2 separate regions of the Homo sapiens genome follow, and region 1 is linked to region 2. A link means that fine-mapping ties the variant in region 2 to the expression of a gene that starts in the linked region. Tissue or cell type: lung. Region 2 holds a variant in brackets; the other region holds the start of a gene. All regions are shown on one strand. Distances are from middle to middle.

The links. PIP is the estimated chance that this variant, and not a neighbour inherited with it, causes the effect.
Region 1: it holds the start of TOM1L2, and the variant in region 2 is fine-mapped to the expression of TOM1L2 in lung (TOPMed, PIP 0.99).

Annotation. Positions count from the first base shown.
Region 1 is chr17:17,969,898-17,975,887 of GRCh38, reverse strand. It overlaps TOM1L2 (target of myb1 like 2 membrane trafficking protein), which reads left to right and starts at 3,488. Exons shown (of 15, transcript NM_001082968.2): 1 at 3,488-3,626. The coding sequence starts at 3,575. It overlaps DRC3 (dynein regulatory complex subunit 3), which reads right to left and starts at 3,026. Exons shown (of 14, transcript NM_031294.4): 1 at 2,914-3,026; 2 at 1,926-2,036. RefSeq lists enhancers at 2,735-3,054, 3,426-3,995 and a silencer at 3,735-3,784.
Region 2 is chr17:17,844,576-17,850,565 of GRCh38, reverse strand. TOM1L2 (target of myb1 like 2 membrane trafficking protein) reads left to right here. Exons shown (of 15, transcript NM_001082968.2): 14 at 1,707-1,743; 15 at 2,783-5,990. The coding sequence ends at 2,931. Among named protein-coding and RNA genes, the nearest start is that of SREBF1, 11 kb to the right of the region's middle. RefSeq lists enhancers at 297-591, 413-672, 1,174-2,020, 5,779-5,990. The variant C/T (reference allele first, on the strand shown) is at 2,973.

The DNA of each region.
Region 1 (5,990 bases), 130 kb before region 2:
GAACTGTCCCTCATCAAATGTCCCAATGAGCTCTTGTGCACACTTCTCTCTTGCTTCCAGGGGAGGCATAGCCTCCACACCCTTCAACCCCTACCCCTTCTCCACCTGTGCCTTCCGTCCTCCCAAGACCTTGGTCCTTTTCCTCCCACTCTCTCCAATCTGTTCACACTGGCTCCACCTCGTTGGGGTGACTGATTCTACCCCCAAAGACAGTTCCAGACCTCGGCCTCTCTCTAGCTCCCCACTCTTATGCAATGGCTTCCCCTGCGGTTTCCCATAACTTGTCATCAACTTGTCTTTGGGGGAATTTTAATGTGTTATATTTGGCTGATGTTTTCTGCAAAGTGTTTGGCCTTTTTTTTGGGGGGGGGGTGGGGAGGTCAGGCGCGGTGGCTCACACTTGTAATCCCAGCACTTTGGGAGGCCGAGGTGGGCGGATCACAAGGTCAGGAGATCAAGACCATCCTGGCCAACATGGTGAAACCCTGACTTTATTAAAAATACAAAAATTAGCTGGGCATGGTGGCGCATGTCTGTAATCCCAGCTACTTGACAGGCTGAGGCAGGAGAATCGCTTGAACCAGGGAGTTGGAGGTTGCAGTGAGCCGAGATCGTGCACCACTGCACTCTAGCCTGGTGATAGAGCGAGACTCCATCAAGAAAAAAAAAAAAAAAAAGGTGCTATACTTTGGGAAATGACTCTTAATTTTGATTTCAAAACTTTAACTGACTTATCCCTCCTACTTCATCAGGGCCTGGTACCTGTGACAGATCAAGTTTGCTTTCAGTCAAGCCCAGCAATTGCTATGCTAGGAAATGGGGGATTGTTATTACATATGCTATTTGTTAAGCACATCAGAGCAGGATTTGGATCCTGACTGTGCATCTTTTGGCAACTCACTTCACCTATCTAAGCCTTGGCTTTCCCATCTGTAAAAGGTGGATAATTTCTCCCTTCTGCATTTGTGTGAGATCACGTATTTAGTCCACACATGGGTAGTGAGTAACTGCTATATGCTGTGAATAAAACAGACGGACTTTAACCCAGCTTCAGGCATGAATCAAACAATAATACAAATATTTAACTACAAACCATGACAATTTGTAGGTGTAGGGAACTATGAAATTGTACATTAGGGGCACCTGGCCTGGCCAAGGAAGACAGGGCTGATTGGAAGGACAAGCAGGAAAGAAGGAGGAGGTAACTTTGTGGAAAGGCCCTTTAGGTGGGAGAGAACAGACTTGTTGCACTTTGGCTGAAGTGATGCAAGTTTGGAGAGGTCTGTGGGAGTTTTGTTATTATCCTAGAATCCCTGGAAAGCACCTAGGGCTTAATAAGGGCAGCAACATTAGCTGGGCATGGTGGTGCATGCCTGTAGTCCCAGCTACCCTGGAGGCTGAGGCAGGAGAATCGCTTGAAACCGGGAGGCGGAGGTTGCGGTGAGCCGAGATCGTGCCATTGCACTCCAGCCTGGGCAACAAGAGCGAAACTCCATCTCAAAAAATAAAAAAAATAAGGGAAGCAATGTGATCAGATCTTAGTTTTTAAGAAGCTCACTCTAGCAACAGTACTGAGAATTGCAAAAGTACTGAGGTGAGAGATGACCAGGGTGTTAGCAAGATGTAGATGGGAGAAATTTCTAGAAACTTAATTTACATGTAGGGCTAATACTCACCAATATCCAGATAAGAAAACAGAAGCTAGTTAAAAAGGTTAATTAACATGCCCAACTTCATACACTTAGCACGTGGCAGAGTTCATTTTCCTAATCATGACTCAACTGTATCCAGGGTACTGGGGACTATCATTGCCACAGCTCACAGTGTTTCTCACAGTTGTCCTGGGTTCAGGGCCAAGGCCCAAACAGTCCTCTTCTATGGGGATCTTATAGTTTACCACCCAACCTGGGTCCCCTTTGACTTGCCTGATGATAGTGTTGTTGAAGACCAGAGAGGTTGGAGCTGGGGAAAGCAGCAGAGTTTTACACAACTGTCAACGGAGTGGCCTCCTCACAGATAACAGATCCAGAATTTTCCTGGGAAATGATAACCTGAAGTCAACAGGATCTGAAAACTATAGTCCCTATTGGCCATGAATTAATAAGGAGAAAATTGGTTGGGCGAGATGGCTTACACCTGTAATCCCAGCTCTTTGGGAGGCCGAGGTGGAAGGACTGCTTGAGTTCAGGAGTTCAAGACCAGCCCGGGCAACATAGGAAGACCCTGTCTCCATTTTTAAAAATAAAAAATAAATAAATAAATAAATAATGAACAAAATTTTTCTTAAAAAAGAATAAAATCAATCACTTACTGAATGCTTACTGTGTGCTCAGTGCACATGCATTATTTAAGTACATGTAAGCTCCGGAGGCCATAAAAAGGGAGTCCTAATGCCCTTATTTCCCAGCTAGGGAACCTGAGGCTCCAGGGAGGTAAAGGAACTTGTCCAAAGTCGTACAATGAGTTACTGACAGAGACGGATACAGAACTTGAGTAGCCGTATTCACATCCAAAGCGGTATATACAGTACCAAGATGAAATCATTTGATAGTTATGAGGTCAGTTATGATGGCTAAATTCTGGGAAAAGTTATCAGTGGACCGGGTACCTCTCTTTCTATGAAAGGAGGCTGGAAGACGGAACCCCTTAAAAATCCATTCTGGCCCTGCTCCCTCGGGAAATGCTTCCTTAGTATTTTTTTTTTTTTTTATTCAAAAGCTTGACAAGCCCAGGACTAAAGTGTCTTGGCTGTCTCACACGACTGTAAAGTGGCTGGGAGAGGACCTACGTGCTCATTTTATAAATGAGAAGGGCCGGGCCGGCGTTCTCCGAGAAAAAGGTCACAGGAAAGAGTTACGTCGGGCACTATCTGTCCCTGCAAGTCCTCCGGGAGCCTCAGCTCCCAGGTCTCACCTTCTCAAGCGCTGGGAACTCGGCGGTTCCACGCAGCAGACGCGTCTCCCGGTTGCTGGGGAACCAAGCGCCGCGACTTGGTTGCTAAGGGGAAGTCAGAAGGGAGACATCCTGGGTGAAAGTTGACAAGTCACGTGACCACATCTCCGTGTGGTGAAACACTCCTTACACCAACCAGCCGTAGAGAAAACAAATGTTTCTCCAATCAGTACTTTCTATGGGCGGGGATATTCCTAGATTCACCTCTGTTCCGTCCATTTGCGTGATTGACTCGTCTTTTGTCCAATAATAGTAAGAATCCTTTAGATTGACCAATATACAGAGGAATCAAAATGCGCAGCTTCCCCTTTGGGGGCGGGCCAGGGGAGGTGCCGCCACGGCTGACAGGGACTCCGGTGACCTAGCTCGCTCCTCCGCCCAATCGGACGCTGCGGGGTGGGTGGGGGCTTTGCTGACAGAGGTGTAACGACCAATAGGAGGCGGGCTTCGTAGGTGTCCCCCAATAGAGACGCGGCAAGGGGGCGGGGCCAAAGGCCCTAAGCTCGGCGTTCCAGAGAGTGGGGAGGGGGCAAGTGTCAGTCAGGACGGGAGTCCGGCGGGTTACAGCGGAGGCCTAGGTGGCAGACAGGGGGCCCGGGCCGCTGCGTGTTGTCCACCCAAGATGGAGTTCCTCCTGGGGAACCCGTTCAGCACACCAGTGGGGCAGTGCCTCGGTAAGGCCGCGTGTGGGGCAGGAGGCTGGGCAACGGCGGCCGCTGATCCGGCTGGTGAGGACCGCGGGCCTCCGCCGGGCGCCGGTGCCACTTCACGAGCGGGCTGGGCCTCCGCCAGCCGCGGGTGCCACTCCACGAGCGGGCTGGGCATCCTGGTCGTCGGGCCTTTGCCGGGCGCTTGTGCCACCTCACGGGCGGGCTGGGCATCCTGGTCGTCTGGCCTTCACTGGGCGTCGGTGCCACCTCACGGGCGGGTTGGGCATCCTGGTCGTCGGGCGTTCGCCGGGCGCCGGTGCCACCTCCCGGGGGGGCTGGGCCTTCGCCGGGTGCCGGTGCTATCCCACGGGCAGGCAGGGCATCTGTGTCCTCGGGCCTCCTCCCGGGCACTGGTGCCACCTCACGGGCGCGCCAGTGCCACTCTGCCAGGAGGCACCCCTGAGGCCCAACTTGGACTCGGAGATGCCCCAGGCTTCCCTGCCCATCAAGGCTCAGCCCTTCCTTTTGCTGCTAGAGGTGGTGCCAACTGCTGGTCTGCTTCCCCAATGCGCTTTGGGAGATGCCACTGCATGTGTCTTTATCCAGCCCAGCAGGCTCACTGCCACTGCCCCAAGGACCCAGTTCTCCCAAACCCTTTGTGGGATGTCACCTTCTTCTCCATCTTTGTCCCTCCTCTTCGGTACCAGCAACCCTCAGACTGGGCACCCTCCCAGAAATGCCCCCTGCTCCGGGACTTGCTAATTTGAGCTGCAACTCAGCTGTGCTGTAGGAGGGACTGGGATAGGAGGAGGGGCTCTTGGAGGGTGATTATCTTGGCAGGGGGATGGCATGCCTGCAGTGCCTCCCAGGAAAGAAGGGAGGCTGTGTTATTTAATGATAAGAGCCCTGGACTGGGAATCATGGAAGCCTGGACTCTAGCAGTGGTTTTGTCAGTGACTCCATATGACCTTGTGCCCTTTCTGGTTTGAAGTTCCCCTGTCTGTCAAAGTGTTTGGAGATGAGATGTGATAGATCCCTTAAAGTTCTCAAGTTTTGATATTCTTTGTAGTACTCTGCACATTGACTGTTGCTTCCTCCCCCACCTCATATTAAGTTTACCAAAGCTGAAATCTTTTGTTGGCAATGTAGAGAGAATGGTACTCAGCATTATCTGTTAATCCTATAGGGGGGATGTGGACACCTGGGGACACCAGAGATGGCCAGAATCATGGATAAGGAAAGCCCAAAGTGTAGGTAAAGGAATACTGAAATGGCCACCATATGGGACTTCCTTACTAAGAAAGCAACTTGCCTTTTTACCCAAGGCAGTGGCTTATGCCACTTGATCAGTCAAGAATGCTGATTAGTTTGTTTGAAAACTGGATTCCTCCTGGTTGGTTGAAGGACTGGTAAAACGTCTTTTATGAGCCAGGATCTTTGGTGTTCTTATGGGCCTGATTTCAGCAGTAGTGATTTGTTTATTTTCTGCTTTGCTTATGAAATTTTAGCTTACTTTCCAGCCTTTAGTGGAGCCTATAAACTTATTGAGGTCTCTCCTGTTGGCTAATTAGCATTTAGGAGCCTTTCTTTACTTTCTGGCGTAGTATCTTTTATAATGCATGAGGGACCCCAAAAGAGTGTTTTCCCACCTTTTTGACATCTTGTCTCTTGCTGCCCACTGGAGAGTCTCTGGATTCTCACTTCCTTACTTCTTCCCCATGTCCTTTTCCACTCTCTTCAGGTGCTCTTGCATGGCAGCCACACTCCAAAAACTAATTTCCAGCCAGTTAATGGAGGGAGCCAGAAAACTTGCGAGAATTGTTTTCCTTTCTGTCCCCTTTATAATAGGAAGCTCTACACCTTTAAAATGACAAGGTAGTAAATGAGGGGTAGAAGTTAAAGGGGATTTAAAATACAAATGTGGTTGGGTGCGGTGGCTCACGCCTGTAATCTCAGCACTTTGGGAGGTTGAGGCGGGCGGATCACAAGGTCAGGAGATCGAGACCATCTTGGCTAACACGGTGAAACCCCGTCTCTACTAAAAATCCAAAAAAAAAAAGAAAATTAGCCAGGCGTGGTGGCATGCGCCTGTAGTCCCAGCTACTCGGGAGGCTGAGGCAGGAGAATTGCTTGAACCCGGGAGGCGGAGTTTGCAGTGAGCTGAGATTGTGCCACTGCACTCCAGCCTGGGCGACAGAGTGAGACTCTGTCTCAAAAAACAAACAAACAACAACAACAACAACAAAAAACCAAATATAAGAGATATAGGGATATATAGCAAGTGGAAAGAGCTTGATACTTCTGTCAGGGAGACCTAAGTTGAATTTTGACCTGGCCCCCATTTCTTGGCTGTGTGACCCCAGAAAATTGTGTTGCTTTCTGAGGTTT
Region 2 (5,990 bases):
TGCCGTGCTTTGGTTTTTTGGGGGAGGGAGTGTTGGGGGAGCATGTTTTTTGTTTTGTTTTGTTTTGTTTTCATTTCTTTTTTTTTTAATTGTGAAGTATACACACAGTGCTTTTGTTTTTAATTGGCTGTCATCCCCCTCCTCCCTTCCTGATTTTTGATGTAAAAGAACCCCTGCCCCAAAGACCCATTGTCTCCATCCTCAGAGATAGGGCTAGAAGATGAGGATACTATGCATCTGAAAATGGCAACAGGTCCCAAGAAAGGAGAGCTGCAGTGGCTGCATGTGATAACTGCTGGCCCCTCCCTCTGTTCTTTACAAAGCACTTTCACTCTCAGCAGCCCAGTAGGGGGCCAGGGTGGCGGATGAAGAAGTGCACTCTGGGAAGTGGCTTGCCCAGAGTCATGGGGTAGTTGGATTCTCCCCCAGAGCTGGAGACACCTCATCTCCCTCCTAGGTGCCTCCTCTGTAGGGGGCCTTGTCCCCAGGCAGAAGAGCCTGTTGAGTTCTTTAACCACAGGGTCAGCCTGGCTGTCTGTGGGCTGGTGACCTGGCTACCTCCCACACCAGGACAGCAGGCCTCAGGTTGGGGCCTCTGGCTGCTCTGGGCCTCCTCCCCAGAAGGTCAGCTTTCCAAACACATGCCTTGCCAAAGAAGGCAGCTGCCTGGGTGTCAGGGAGGAAGAACACACCCCGGGACATCTTTCCCAAGGGGCTGTCTCGAAAAGAAATTGCTTCTCTCACAGAAGCAAGGCAGGAAGGACCAAGGTCCTTAACTTCTAAGGGGGACCCCAGGGTCCAGACAGGGAGGGGATGTGTCCAGTAAGGCTACATAGCAGGTCAGTGGTAGAGTCAGGAAGGAACCCAGGTCTCCTAGCCCAGCCCAGGGCTTTGTCACTTCCCCATCCTGCCCCTTCCCAATGAGGCCCTGCACATGCTGCTCTTCCCCAGTCCCCAGGGAACCCCATGAGCTCAAGACACTACCATGTTCTCCAAACAAAATCAAGTCTGATGCACTTTAATTTTTGAGTGCACAGAGCCTCCATGGCTCCTTGAGGAGCCAGCAGCAGATAATATAATCTGGGCCACGGGAGGAGGCTGGTGCAGCTCCCAGGAGGCTGCAGGACATGGCTTCTGGAGGCACAGCCTCCACTCCCAAAGTACCTACTGAGTGACAGGCCCTGTGCTGTGGGCTTTGTGGCCCTGAGCCATCAAGGCCTCATGCGGTTTCCAGCTATTGGTGTCAACAGCGTCTTCCCAGAAACCCTGTGGCTGGCAGTGAGTGGGTGTTGTGTTGGGCACACGTGACCCTGTGTGTGCTCAGGCTCAGCCCCCTGTGGCTACTGCTCTGTGCCTCTCCCTAGAGCCTCAAGAGTGCCAAAGGTGGGGTCCCGCCCTCTGCAGCCCAGGCTGGAGAACCAGCCTGCACCGTTTTTGGAGTTTTCTTTCCAGCCTTTCTGGAGGATCAAAACCTAAAACATGTTTGAATTTTTTGCTTTTGTTTTTTAAAAACAAAGCTTCTGTTTCTCCAATAAGAAGAGCAGTATTTTACTATTACAGAAATCTGGAAACAGGGAAAATTAGGAAGTTTTGTTCAGGCTACCCTGGGCAGTGCTGTCCTAGGGTGGCCATGGGCAGACAGAGGTGGCTGGGCGGGCAGTGCTTGGACCAGTGCCCTAATTTCATTTTCTCTGCTCCTCCCACAGAAGGGTGATGATCTGGAGGAGGGTGTCACAAGTGAAGGTATGGCCTGGCCAGTGGCCTTACAGCCCCCTTTTGTTGCCTCTGTGCAGGCTGCACAGGAGCCAGCCCCCATCATCTTGGAGCCCCCGCTGCCAGAGCACCTACTGGTGCCAGGCCCTGAGCCATGGGCTTCACGGGTGGCTTTGTCCCACCCAGGTCTTACGCTGATTTGGGAAGTGTGATTTATCTCGCTTATTGGGAAACAGGTCAGAAAGAACATGTCAATTCCACAAAGTTGCAGAGCTGGTGAATAGCGGGTGCAGATTGCCACCTGGTCCTGACCCACAGGTGCTCAGCCCAGCTCAGACACGCAGTTTGTGGAGGTGCGCAGCAGCACCCTTGGGCCACTGAGCCAGAAGGGAGGAGCCTCTCCTGGGCCTCAGCTGATGGGCTGGATGGGAGCAGCGGGGTCTTAGTTCTCCCACATGGCCACCCCCACATCCCCTGCCCTTCACATCCTGCCTCCCCAAGCTCATCTTGCCCCACTCCATCTGCCTCTCCGTGCTCCTGTCCTCCTCTCCCCAGGTCTGCCAGACCCTGTGGCCAGACCGCTCCGCAGGGAGGGAAACTTCAGAGGACCCTGCTCCCTAGCTCTCAGTGCCCATAGAAATGGGGCACTCCCCCCTCCCCACTGCATTCCTCAGCATCTCCTCAGTCCTCCATTGGTGGGCAAGGGTGGGGTAGGTGGGATGGTTCCTGCCTGTTTAATCAGAAGCTGGCCCCTCCAGCTTACCCTGCCCCACCCCCAGTGCTGATCTGGAAAATGGACAAAACCCAGTGCTGATCTGGAAAATGGTCAGCGGTAGGGTGAGCACTCTGGGCTGTGTTTTCCAGAGCCTTTCCCTCCAGGGCAGGAGGACTGGGCACAGCCAGGAGCCTCCCCCCACACTGCAGCTCACGAACCCCTCCCTACCCACCTGCTCCTAGGTGGGCTTCATGCCTGCCCTAGAGGAGGAAACGGGCTGGGGAGTGGAAGGGTGCGCTTCCTCTGGTGGCCTGCCCTCACCAACCCTGACCCTTGCCTTGGTTTGTATTGCAGAGTTTGATAAATTCCTTGAAGAAAGAGCCAAAGCTGCTGAAATGGTTCCCGACCTCCCCTCGCCCCCCATGGAGGCTCCTGCCCCAGCCTCAAACCCTTCTGGCCGGAAGAAGCCAGAGCGGTCAGAGGATGCCCTCTTCGCCCTGTGAGCAGCTCTGTGGTTTGCCTCCCCAGATGGCGGGTCCCCGCT[C/T]GCACCCCGTGGACACCGGGCACTGGCCACTCCTACATCCCCAGCTCCACACGGCCTGCACACCTGTGTTTCCATGGAAATGCCACCGTGTCTGCTCCCAGGCCTCCCACTAGTCAGGACCAGCTTCAGCCACTTCTTTTCTCTGAGTGGTGGGACAACTGCAGCCAGAGACTCTCTCCCCTCCCACCATGGGCCCCTCTGCCCATGTTTCCTCCCAGGAAGAGCGGGCAGAGTGGCCCAGCCCCAGGCAGTGCTTCCTGAGCAGACCACCCGGACTGTCTTTCCTCCACCCGCCCATGGAGAAAGAGCACGCCCGGCCCCGCCCTGTGCTCACCTCTGCCTGGCTCAGCGACCTTCTCAGGCATTCTGCCCTCCTGGGCCCCTCTCTCCCTGAAGGGGCTTTGTGGCATCTCTGGAAGAGCAGGGTGTGCTGCACTCATGGGCCTGGTCTCACTCCTTGGACTTGTCACCTTGTGACATTTGGCTTATCAGCATTTGAGAAGGCTCTGCTGGGTCTCCATGGTGGGGGTCTCTCACCTTCTTGACCCTCTCTCCATCATTCAGCTGCCAGCCCAGGCTTCACACCCAAGCTGGCTCAGCAGCCGAGCCTGGCACCGAGGGTCCCTGCAGGCTCCCTGGGCAGGGAGAGGGCCAAGGACAATTGGGAGGGCAGCAGGCAGCCCGCAGATGGTGGCCATGTGGCACGCTGCTGAGACGACACTACCAATAAACCAAACTGCCACGCACACACTGCAGGCTCACACCCGCACACCTGGTCCTGGCTTGTGGAGGGACTTGCACTGGAGGTATTGCTCTGGCTTGCCTGGGGAAGTGTCACAGATGTGCACATGGGCCACACTCAGTGCTGTGGCCTGGCCTGCCGTAGCCTCACACATCTGCCTCAAGAGCCAGCAGCAAACAGCTTTGTGGCATCCTTGGAGGTTCCCAGTGACTGAGAGGCCTGGGCAGCACTAAGGCCCCTGCTCTGCTCCCTGGCATAGGCCTTGGCCTCCTTGCACAGACTCTCCTGACAGTCTGGCCTCCTCCCACCTCAGAGGTCCTCTGGCCACCAATTTATACTCTCTCCCCAAGCTGATCCTGAAGGCAGGCAGAGCAGCTAGGGGCTGGTAACATGTATTCCCATCCCGTGTCCTCACTGGTGTGTCTCCTGGCCATGGGCAAGGGACTCGGGTCATCCCAGGCCCTGGTCCAGCCAGACACCTGGCCCCACACCTCCCACCAGGCTGCTGTTGCTCAGAAGGAGAATACTGCAGCTGTATGCATCCCCGTGTGTCTTGGGCCCAGCTCGCTGGGTCAGTCTGCTCCTGTCCCCTCCAGCATGCACTGCCTAGGTCAGCACAGGTTCCTGATCCATGGTGTAGTTAGCCCTTCCCACCTGGCAGGACGGCCCAGACCACCAGCCAAGCAGGGAAAGGGGGCTGGGCTTGACGGGAGAAGAGACCAGCGACATGGTCGTTGGGGAGCATTCAGGATGGCGACTTCAGCTGGGGGTCATGCTGAGCACCAACAGGAACTATTCCAGTGAAGAGCAAGTGCTGCCCGACCCAGGACCCTGTGCCAGGCTAGCAGCCCTCCAGCTCCCTCCAGAGAGGAAACCTCTGTCTGGCTGAGGGTGGGACTAGCTGGGATGTCTCACTCCAGTTGCTCAGGTTCACCCAGGAAGCTCCTCCGTGGAGTGGCCAGCCTGATTCTAGCCCTGTCCTCTCTGGCAGCACATGCCACACCTGCCTGGGCCTTCTGCTCCCTGATGCTTGATGAGCCCCTGCCTCCTCAATGTTTCTCAAAGACAGACCCCCCTGAGGCCAGCTTGAATGTGAAGACTGCTGAAGTTAGCTGGCTTCACTTGAGCTGCAGAAAAGGTGGCTGGGATGGCCCAGGTGCACCCAGAGGCCCCAGCCCTTTGGCTGCCTTTGGGTTGTGACTTGGGTTGTCTCTGAGGCCCTGCCAGAGCTGGGCCTGCGGGTGGTGGGCGGTCCGACCTCGGGCAGTCAGTGCTCCGCAGCCTCAGCACTGCATCCCAGACCCAGTGTCCTCAGAGGGAAGAGCCAGCCTCCCTGCCTCATGGAACCAGGAGTCCCAAAAAGTCAGGAGCCTGGAGGCTCTGAAAGGAGCAGGGATTCCATAGTGCGTGAAGCTGAAATAGGCGCCCTCCTGGGGAGCCCCCAGCAAAACTGTTTTTCATACCCACTCCCAGAACTGCCCCGCTCCAGCTCCAGCGCCAGCGCCAGCTGGTTGCCAGGCATCATTGGAGAGGCCTGGCTGCCCCAGGGGCAGCAGGGAGTGGTGGACCTGTATGGGCTGGCAGGAGGCCATTGGCCATGCTGACAAGTGTCACCTGCCTTCCTAGCCTGGAGCCACCCCTCAGGTGGCCTGCTTGCACCTCCTATCCGGAGGTAGCCTGCCCCACCTGTAGGCAGAGGGGGCTCTTGCTTGAGGCCTGCACAGGAAGCAAGTATAGCCCCGGTGCCCCAGAGTGGGTTCCACTTAGCCCTGGCGAGATGGCCTGTCCTGAGATCTCTGCTCCCAGACCCCACCATCTGGGGAGCACAGTCCTTAGGCTGCCTGGTCCAGGAAGGGGGTGCGGCTCTGTCAGGAAACCTGGACTCTCAAGGCCCACCAGCCTCTCCGTGAGTGTTAGAAATCACAGATACAGTATATACTTAATTACACTAAATTATTGCTGGGATTCCTTATAAGCACTAATTATACCTGATTATAGGTTAAAATATTTATTTTGTCAAAATATTTTCTTGGGAATGTGTTTAACCCTTTCTGCGTTCATTGTTGCTGAGATGTGAAAACTAACCATTCCCTCCTGCCTACCTTTTTGGCCACTGGGCGGCAGAGAATGGCGCTATGTGCAGTTGGGCCCCTGGCACCATGGGCCTTTGGCCTGCCTGCTGCAGAGTAGCCCTGCCTGGGCAGTCTCCAGGCACTGAGCAGGCCATCTGTGGCCAGGCTGAGAGAATGACTGGCTCGCTTACCAGCGTGCATGGG